Regions from separate parts of the Homo sapiens genome. Here region 1 is linked to region 2. The links come from fine-mapping of genetic effects on gene expression. A gene starts in region 2. The other region holds a variant in brackets. All regions are shown on one strand. Distances are between the middles of the regions. Region 1 has its middle 40 kb from the start of FAM184A. Region 2 holds the start of ASF1A (anti-silencing function 1A histone chaperone).

Region 1 (5,382 bases), 220 kb after region 2:
CTTTATGGTGGTTAGGAGATGGGGCCACAGTGAGGGTTTCCCTGTTGAGGGTTTGAATTTCCTATCAGCTCCAAAGGAGAGAGAGCATGGCTTTTTGTAATGGCTTGCTCAGAGGTGGGGGCAGAAGGGGAAAAGGGACTGGTGGGCTTGAAAACTTCCAGTAGTCCATTATCCTAAGTGATCTAACACAAAGGCAAAAAACCAGATACCGCATGTCCTCATTTATAAGTGGGAGCTAAACACTAAGTACACATGATCATAAAGATGGGAACAATAGCCACTGGGGATCACTAGATGAGGGAGGGAGGGGGGCATGGGCTAAAGGACCCCATGTTGGGTACTATGCCTATGACCTGAACGACAGGATCGTTGGGACCTCAAGCCTCAGTGTCACACAGTTTACCCATATAACAAATCTGCATGTGTACCCTTAATCTACAATAAGTTGAAACCTGTTTTTAAAAAAGAAAACTTTCAGTAGTCAGACATAAAAAATAGACTCAGGCTCTTTATTACAAATCCCAGTCTAGTGGAGGAGAAAAGCAGGTGAATCAATAAAAACATTACAAGGCGATAAATGTCCACAGTGCTGTGCAAGTCCAGAGAAATGAGTGTCCAGCTGCCTGTGGAAGACTTCATAAAACTGGCATTGACTGGATCTCAAAGGGAAGAAGACTCTCTCAAAGCAGAGAAGGATTAAGGAGGACAGGAGGAATTTTCAGGCTTAGGGAACAGTATTTGGAAAATCACAGATATATGAAAGTGCATAGTGTATTCTGAAAACAATCCACAGTCCCTTTGTAAAGAGTAAGGGGCATCTGGAGAGGAAGCAGAGGCCAGAAGAGGACCCTGGGGAGGAAGTGTGTGTATGTGAGATGAGCTCTGTATGGCATTCTAAATGTTTTGACTTTATCCTTTGGAAAACAGGAAAGCCTCCCAGACAGGATAGTATCTGCATTTTAGAAATATTATTCAGGTCTCAGGAGAATTGGTGAGTGACCAAGTAGAACTACCAGGTGCGACCAGCAGGGGACACGATTGCAATCATCGAGTTTGGAGGCTAGGAGGACATTAACCAAGGCTAGGGGATTGGGAGTGGGCATAGATTTGGGAGACAAGTCTGTGGATCATTTTGTGTGTAAGGGTGAGAGAGAGTGAGAAACAAACTCTTGGGATTTTAACTTGGACTACTGGGAATCAGGAATGATCAACAGATTTCTGATTTTGGTGACCATGTACATAGTGGTGCCCTTAACTAGGCTAGGAAACAGGGAAGAGGGAAGAAGAAATAGTGAGATCCATGTAGAGAATGTTCAATTAGCAATGCCCTGGCAGGGCTTCCTGGCTAGTCCTTTTCGTACTTAAAGTTGTCAGTAGGCCATACTGCCACACAATACATTTGAGTACAGCAATGTATAATCGGACCCTAACCCAGGCGGCCTCTTCCACTGTGGTCACCTTGAGAGGCTATATCAGTTCTGTTGCTGCTGTCAGAGGCCCCATTGCTTTGAACATGCCTGCGACTCAGAGGTAAGACCTGCTTCTTACGTACCTTCACGGTTTATGAAGTACTTTATCTTAGGTGAACCTCAAAACAACCCTGTGAAGTATACAGTAGGATTATCATTTTTTACAGATAACAAAACAGACTCAAAGAGGTTGCTTCTCTAGTTCACATGGTTAGAAATGGAGGACTTGAACCCTCCTTTTTAGTGATTAATTTAATTGGTTGAGGATTTGTAGGACCTGAAAGTTTAGCTAGGTGTGTGGAGTCTGCCTTTTAGTGCAAGTTTAGCCAGCCAAGGGTTGAGAGAAACAGGCAGGGGTGGGGGTATCCCAGAAGCAGGACCAGTCAGGGACTCAGTTACAGGAGAGAAGCAGTCAGGGACCAGAGAGCTGGAGGCAGGGTCTAAATTCTGGATCACCCAGAGGGTCAAGAAGAGATGAAGTGACACCAAAGATCACTCAGATTTTAAGGCAGAAACTTTGCTTTCTGGATTGCTGTATATGGCCTTTGGGGCATGGGAAGCTCTGACCTGCAGTTATTAATTAAGCCAGGACCTTTCCATAGATGCAGAAGTTTGGTCTTCCACAATCAAGGATAATTCTTATTTTTTATAATAATGAAAAACTGGAGTGAATGTAAAACAGTACACTGGCTCCACCATTCACTAGCTATAAAATTAATTTAACATTCATTTCTTCCTATGTAAAATGTGAGCATAAAAATCACTGATCTCCTAAAGTTGTTGTCAGTATTAAATAAGACAATATATATAAAGGGCTTAGAATAATACTTAGCTCATATTAAACACTCAATAATAGTTACCTTTATTATTGTGGGAAATGATCTCAACAGAGTTTATAAAGCTATTATGTTTCTCATGAGTTGTTGCGGGAAGTCAGGGACCCCAAACAGAGGGACTGGCTGAAGCCATGGTGGAAGAACATGAATTGTGAAGATTTCATTGACATTTATTAGATCCCCAAATTAATATTTTTATAATTTCTTACGCCTGTCTTTACTGCAATCTCTGAACATAAATTGTGAAGATTTCATGGACACTTATCACTTCCCCAATCAATACCCTTGTGATTTCCTATGCCTATCTTTACTTTAATCTCCTAATCCCATCATTTTCGTAAGCTGAGGAGGATGTATGTCATCTCAGGACCCTGTGATGATTGCGTTAACAGCACAAATTGTTTGTAGAGCATATGTGTCTGAACAATATGAAATCTGGGCACCTTGAAAAAAAAACAAGATAACAGCAGTGTTCAGGGAACAAGAGAGGTAACCTTAAACTGACCGCCAGTGAGCTGGGCAGAACAGAGCCATATTTCTCTTCTTTCAAAAGCAAATGGGAGAAATATCGCTGAATTCTTTTTCTCAGCAAGGAACATCCCTGAGAAAGAGAATGCATCCCTAAGGGTAGGCCTCTGAAACGGCCCCCTTGGGTGCGGCTGTCTTCTATGGTCGAAACTGTAGGGATGAAATAAGCCCCAGTCTCCCATAGCGCCCCCAGGCTTATTAGGATGAGGAAATTCCCGCCTAATAAATTTTGGTCAGACTGGTTGTCTGCTGTCAAACCCTGTCTCCCGATAA[G/C]ATGTTATCAATGACAATGCGTGCCAAAACTTCATTAGCAATTTTAATTTCGCCCCGGTCCTGTGGTCCTGCGATCTCGCCCTGCCTCCATTTGCCTTGTGATAGTGTATTACCTTGTGAAGCACGTGATCTCTGTGACCCACACCCTATTCGTACGCTCCCTCCTCTTTTGAAAATCACTAATAAAAACTTGCTGGTTTTACAGCTCAGGGGGCATCACAGAAACTACCGACATGTGAAGTCTCCCCCGGACACCCAGCTTTAAAATTTCTCTCTTTTGTACTCTGTCCCTTTATTTCTCAAACCGGCCAGTGCTTAGGGAAAATAGAAAAGAACCCATGTGAAATCGGGGGCAGGTTCCCCTGATAATGAGTTTGTAATAAGATGGCATACTTTAAAAATTGTTAGTATATGAACACAAAATAACCACAACTATAAAATTAAGAAAAAAAGAGACTGGAAAAAACTTCTCCAACATGTCATCAGTTTTTGCCTTTTTAAAAAAAGTAATAGCTATATTGAGGCTAGGTGTCGTGGCTCATGCCTGTAAACCCAGCACTTTGGGAGACAGAGGCAGGAGGATTACTTGAGTCCAGGAGTTCAAGACTGGCCTGAGCAAGATGGTGAGATTCTGTCTCTACAAAATACAAAAAAATAAAAAAATAAAAAATAAAAATTCGTAGGGCATGGTGGTTTATGCCTGTAGTCCCAGGAGGCTGAGTTGAGAGGATTGCTTGAGCCCAGGAGGTCGAGGCTGCAGTGAGCCATGATTGTGCCGCTGCAGCACAGCATGGGTGACACAGCAAGACCCTGCCCCAAATGATAATAATAATAGTCTTATTGAGACATAATTCACGTACCCTAAAATTCACTCTTCTAAAGTATACAGTTCACAGTCAGTTGTTTTTAGCATATTCACAGAATTGTGCAAGCATCACCAGCATCTAATTTTAGAAGGTTGCATCACTGCAAAAAGAAACCCTGCACCCATTTGCTGTTACTCATAATCCGCTTGTTCTTCCCAGCCCCTGGCAACCACTAATCTACTTTCTCTACGGATTTGCCTGTGGTGGACATTTGATAGAAGTGACATCATACAATATATGGTATTCTGTATCTTTCAGGAAACATAATGTTTTCAAGGTTTATCCATGTTTTAGTACGTATCTATATTCATTCCTCTTTATGGCCAGATAATACTCCATTGTATAGACACACTACATATTGTATAGACACTGTCCTTCAGTTGATGGACCTTTGAGTTTTTTCTACTTTGGGGCTATTATGCTGCCATCAGTATTAGTGTTCAAATGTGTGGACAAATGTTTTCGGTTCTCTTGAGTATATACACAGAGGTGGAGTTGCTGTGTCATATGGTAACTCTATGTTTCACATTTTAAGGAACTCCCAACTGTTTTCTAAAGTGGCTGTACTATTTTACAATCCCGCTAACAACGTATGAGGGTTCAAATTTCTCCATATCCTCATCAACACTTACTATGGTCTGTCTTATTAAATACAGCCATCCTAATGGGTGTGAAATAGGATCTAGTGGCAGAGCTGTTTCTATTTGAGTGGAGAAATGTATTACTTTTTTTTTTCACTCAATTTTATGGACTAAAATAAAGTGATGGTTTTTCTCTTTCTTTCTTTCTTTCTTCCTTTCTTTCTTTCTTTCTTTCTTTTTTTTTTTTTTTAGGAGACAGGGTCTTGTTCTGTTGCCCAGGCTGGAGTGCAGTGGCATGCTCATCCTGCCTCAAACTCCTGTGTAGCTAGGACTGTATGCAGGTACCACTGCATCTGAAAAACTTTCTTTTTTTTTTTGTAGAGATGAAGTCTTGATATGATGCCCAGACTGCTGTTGAACTCCTGGCCTCCAGTAATCCTCCCACATTGGCCACTCAAAGTACTGGGATTATAGGTGTGAGCCACCACACCTAGCCCTGTATTATATTTTTAATAGGAAAGTTTTTCATTTGTTTTGAGACAGGGTCTCACTCTGTCACTCAGGCTGGAGTGCAGTGGCAAGATCATGGCTCACTTTAGCCTCAACCTCCTGGGCTCAAGAGATCCTCCCACCTCAGCCTTCCAAGTAGCTGGGCCTACAGGTGCATGTCATCATACCTGGCTAATTTTTGTATTTTTTGTAGAATAAAGATAGGGTTTTGCCATGTTGCCCAGGCTGGTCTCAAACTCTTGAGCTCAAGCAGTCAGCCCACCTGGGCCTCCCAAATTGTTGGGATTATAGGCGTGAGCCACCGTGCCTGGCCTTTTAA
Region 2 (5,382 bases):
CTGTTGTACAATTAGATGTTTGGGAGTCACCAAAGTTGTTCAGCAACAAGTCCTACTGATTGCCTCTGAAACCAGAGAGAGGCTTTCACAATTCTTTTTTTCCTACAGCATACCAGTTAAATTAGAAATATGCCAGGACATATCTGAGGAATCCTTTCGGTCTCTCCTGGAGTAAGGTAGTATCAATGGTGAGGAAACTATTGAACAAAGTGCTCAACGACCCTTTAGTATTTCTGACAAGCAATAATACAAGAGTTAAGACAGGAGAAGCCTGGAGCTAATTCTTGCAGCTTCCAGTGAAATGTTGGGGAGTTTTTTCTTCTTAAATACTGTTGCATATGATGTGTTAAACAAAAAATTTTAAAGAAAATAAGCCAAATTAGTGGCATTCAGGTAGATCTTCTCAGTCCTTCATGCTGCACATCCACCAAAAGTGAGTTTTACAACTAGTCTCATTGTAACACTTACGGTCAGACTGCAAAATGCACGTGATTTTAACAAGCATAAAATGTCGTTTTCATGAGACTGACTAGACTCTCCTCTTAAGAGTACCTGTAATAATCAGACAACTGCATACACCAGTCTCACAGGAGTTTTAATCTTCAAATGGTCATTTTATCTTACATATACAGAGTGTCTTACAGCATACAGCAATTTCCACTTTATCTGCTAGTGTTAGGACCAGCACTAATAAGAATGAAGAGTATGTTGTTTATCAGCCACAAAAATCTGTGTCTATCACCATGGTTTGACTCTTAATACTCTAATGTCACAAACAACTGGCTTGAAGAAGTGTTTTTTGGTAGGTCCTATATCTAACTGTTCAATCCACTGACAAAAAAAGGGAACTCTTCCCCACTCTAACCGGTTTTCCTAAATGTACGAGGGGTTGACATTAGCTGTCTCACATTAACTTTCAAAAGACCATCAGATGAAAACGTTTCATCAAAAGCCACCTACTTAAGTATGAACAATGACCAAAGAATGACAAATCAAAATTCTGGGCACTATACTAAGAGAAAACTCTTCCAGAACACATACTTAAGAATTAATTTTCTCTCTGAATTTGGCCAAGTTTGGTGGTTTCATTCACAACATTTAAGGAAAAAAATGATGGTTTATGGCTAGCAGATAATAAAACAAACCTTTATACCACTTACTAAATAGAAACGGTTTAGGCTCACAAATATGTTAAAGCTTTCTCTTTCCCCGCAATGGTAGCCAAGCAGCATAAACGAATCAACATTTCCTCAGTTCAGACCTCAACTGGTTACAGGCAAGCAAGGGCTCCTCAGAATTTGCTTTACTAACGGTTTAGGTCAGAAATTTTTTTGAAGATCAAATGTCTTGCTATGTCTTTGTGTTCTTTTTCCCATCTCTATTACGTTTGTTGCCCTGTTGGTCTCCTAACACTTCCATTTTCTCCTTTTATGTTCCTGCTATGCTCTCCAAATGGCAGTAACCTGAAGTATAACTGATCACACCTCTTGTGATTTTTTTTTATTCTAGGACTTCCCAGATCTGGACTCCGAAGAAGACGCCCAGGTGCAAGCCCAAAGGTTACCTATTTAAATTTTCCAAGCACAGTGTGTAGAAAATCATTCCTCGCCCTTCATTTTGTGTTGCTTAACGGCGCTGTCGTGCCTAAACGTAGATACTGGCCAAGAGCTAGATTTCCAAAATGGCTTTGCTCCTTTCGAGCTGACATCGGTCTATAACATGCAATTTATTTCCCCTGCAGCCAATCTTTCTCTCTACTCCAAATACTACCCGATACGCAGAAAGCTGAACCTAACCCAGTGTAAACACCGACTCTCATCTGCTAAATTCAGCAAGGCCGGCAAAGCTGTTGCACTGATGTAAAAAGAGCGTTAAATCAAAAAACCAAAAAAACAAAAAAAAAAACAAAAAAACGCCAAAACACCCACACGAAGCCAACTGGAGGGGCGGGCGTCGGCCGGATCGCGCCCTCCCGCCGCAGCCACGCCTCCCCGCCGCGGCCACGCCCCCTCCGCCCCTCTCCGCGCCGCCGCCGGCGGCCTCCGCGCGGGCCTCCCAGCCCTTATTCCACTCACTTTGTTCTCCGCCTTTGTCCTAATCCACACCAGCAGGTGGAGCCGCAGTTAAAGTTTCCGAGTCCATTCCGGGAGCGGGAGCCCATCTTGCTGGCTGCCGAGGCCCTCGCTGGAGGAGGAGGGTCAGAACTCGGGTGCAGCCAATCGAGGGCAACGCTGCTACTTATCAGAGCAGAATGGGCTGTAGTTTAGTGAAATAGGAAAGCTGCAAAACACTGTGGAGTGCTCCCGTGTAAATAAAAAGAGGAAAAAAGTTTCTCAAGTCGCCGCTGCACGACGTCTGGCCGGCGCTGGAGCGGGGGTCTGCGCTCTCCCGAGCGGCCGCGCGCTGGACTTTATTGTGCCGCAACCAGCCCCAGTTCCCATTGTTTGTGTTTTTTTCAAAATATGGCAAAGGTTCAGGTGAACAATGTAGTGGTGCTGGATAACCCTTCTCCTTTCTACAACCCGTTCCAGTTCGAGATCACCTTCGAGTGCATCGAGGACCTGTCTGAAGGTGAGTGCGGCGCCCGTGCGCCCGGGCTGTCAGTTGCGGGCTGCAGACGTTGAAAGTTTCCCGGGCCGGGCCTCGCGCTGGGCGGCTGTGTTCGGCGCCTGGCGGCCGCGGGCTGCTCTGCGGAGGGAAACTTGAAGTTGATGGACGACGGCCGCCGAGGCGCGCGCGGCTTTCCGCCGCAGCCCAGGCGCCTGCCGGGCTCAACTTGCGAGGAACTTGTTTGAGCGGAGGAGCGGAGGTAGCCATGTTGTCAGCTTTGTCTGCGGGCGGGCAGCTCGGAGACCCGCACTCGCTCCCGCTGCGCCGCCTGAGGTCGCGCCGGGCTGGCTCCGCGCCGCCAACAGCCTCCGCGACCCTCCGGGCCCGAGCACGGAGGCTGGGAAGGGAGAGGCTGTGCGTGTGGTCGCGCCGGCGAGTTCGGAGCGGAGCCATCTTACCCCGAGTCGAGAATTGGGCCAGCGACCCCGGCGCACGGCGCCTCCTCTTGCCCCGCCGCCCGCCTGCCCCCGGCGAAAGGCAGGCAGGCACTCTCGAGAGCTCACGGTGGAGTCGCCGCACTCTCCGGGCTGGCCATGCCTGGCCGCTTCGGGGAGGAGAGCGAGGCTGTCCTCGCGCTGATTTCTGGCTTCCTCGACCAACCAGCGGGGGAGGCGGGCGCAGGCTCGGCCCCTCCGCGCCGCGGGCTGGGCGCCGGCGCTCCCCGGGGGCCGTGGGTCCTGTTCGGCCGGTCCTCCTCGGCCGGCGCCCGGGATGCGCCGGGATGCTGGCGCGCAGGCTCCCCAACCAACGTGGACTCCTTTCCCCTAATGACGAAAAGCTAATTTCAGGAAGAGAAATAGAGCTGAGGTAGGAAGTTACATTTAACCTAAAAGCAGAAATAAGATACTTAAATAATTTCCAGGACTTAATCTCTGCCTTATAAATAGTCTGAAGGAAGACTTTCTTCAAGACCGTGTTGAAATCTAAAATAACTCCACATCCAAATACAGAACACACCCTAAACATAAAACACAAACGTAGGCTAGGAAATTAAGGTCAACTCCTCATGTCAGTCCAAGAATTCTTGGTATTTTTTCTACATATATTTTAAGGTCTTAAAAATACGTATTTTTAATATCTTTAGTAATAAATATTTAGAAAGCTAAAACGACAATTATCTTTGCTTTAATTATCTTTTACTAAAGTAATTCAGTGCTTCATTTGCCAGTTTTGAAGGGGAAATAGTTTAACTTCATCGATGAGGGACATACTTTGAACTAGAAGTATATGTAAAAAATGCATTGAAGATGATTTAGGTAATCGTGGCATGTAAAACTTTTCATTTTAAAAACTAGTTTTTAATCTCTAAAATGTATATATCATATGTAAGGTTAATTTTAATTATAAAACAATATATATTCATTGTAATAAACTTTTAGAAAGTTGTACAGGCATATATAAAGTTAACAGTTCTCTGTACTCAGTGCCTTGCCCTATCTCCTTTCGGTAATCACAATTATTACTTTAACATGTGCCCCCGTTTTTTTTTTTTTTTTAAACCTATATAGAGCATAAATGCACATACATATATAGGGCAAATTTTGAAAGATGATTCATTTATTAAAATAATTTCAAATAGGCCATTGATAACACTAAGGGGTATTTTTCTTATTACTCTGAAGTCATTTGATTACTCTCCTATGATACTACTATTAATATAAGCATTGCAGCTACCAGGCCCATTTTTCACACCCAACAGTAATTTTTTTTTTATTGCCAACTGCATATAAAAATAGACAAAAGAAAAACCATTGATCGGTCCATTCCAACTTATACCACACTGTTTTTCAGATATACCACCAGAAGTTCTTCAAATTACAGGTATTTCTCAAGTGTTGCCTTCCATTTTAGGAGTCAGCTCTGAACAAAGAAGATAGATGACTCAGGATGTCGTTACAGGGCTTTTACATTGCATAGATGAAACCAGCCATTCATAAAGCCAAAACGTTCCATTTTTAACTGGGATCCATTCAGAACCCAGCTGAATCACATCAGGGATTTACAGTACTGGTGTCAAAAACATACTTATTTCCAATGGTATATTTCACTTCCTAGGCACCATTACTGAGCATTTATTTAGTATTTTAAAAAATATTTTAAGCTGAGTCATACTGAAGCTGCAAAGGAATCTTTCAAAAAGGTGCCATGCCTGTATACTCCACCTAGAGGCTATGTGGATTAAGGAAATTTTTACTTAGCAAAGGCTTCTAATAGGTTCCATACTTTTATATTACAGTTCTTTTAAAAATTCTGTTCTTAAAATTAAACTATAGAATTTTTTTTTTTTTAAATGAGACAGTGTTGCTCTGGCACTCAGGCTGGATGGAGTACAGTGGTGCAAACACAGCTGCTCCCTGCAGCCTCAACCTGGGCTTAAGCAATCCTCCCACCTTAGCCTCCTGAATAGCTGGGACCATAGTCGATGTGCCACCACATTGGGCTAATTTTTTAATTTTTTGTAGAGACGGAGTTTTGCCATGTTGCCCAAGCTGGTCTCGAACCCCTGGGCTCAAGCAGTCCTCCCACCCCTGCCTCCCATAGTGTTGTGATTATAGTGAGCCCACTGCACCCAGCCCAAACTATAGAATATTTTGAAAAGAATTTTCTTAATAAGTTATTTTGCCTCAAGTCTCAAAGCAGAGTTTGGCCACCGTTTTTCATACTTTCATCAGTAGCCCCAAACGTTCACTTTCCTTTAAGAGCTGCCCTGTAGCTTTGCTTCAGAAAAAGCCTTGAGGAATATTTGGTCTTAAGATAATTTGGTTCTTTCTA

What was found. PIP is the estimated chance that this variant, and not a neighbour inherited with it, causes the effect.
Region 1: its variant is the best candidate, but not a certain one, in a credible set for the expression of ASF1A in whole blood (INTERVAL, PIP 0.64).

What each region holds. Positions count from the first base shown.
Region 1 is chr6:119,116,061-119,121,442 of GRCh38, forward strand. It overlaps a transcript of FAM184A not described here. Among named protein-coding and RNA genes, the nearest start is that of FAM184A, 40 kb to the left of the region's middle. The variant G/C (reference allele first, on the strand shown) is at 3,107.
Region 2 is chr6:118,891,952-118,897,333 of GRCh38, forward strand. ASF1A (anti-silencing function 1A histone chaperone) reads left to right here and starts at 2,201. Exons shown (of 4, transcript NM_014034.3): 1 at 2,201-2,571. The coding sequence starts at 2,463. All of the region lies in intron 8 of MCM9 (minichromosome maintenance 9 homologous recombination repair factor), which reads right to left. RefSeq lists silencers at 1,936-2,075, 2,866-3,395 and an enhancer at 2,396-2,485.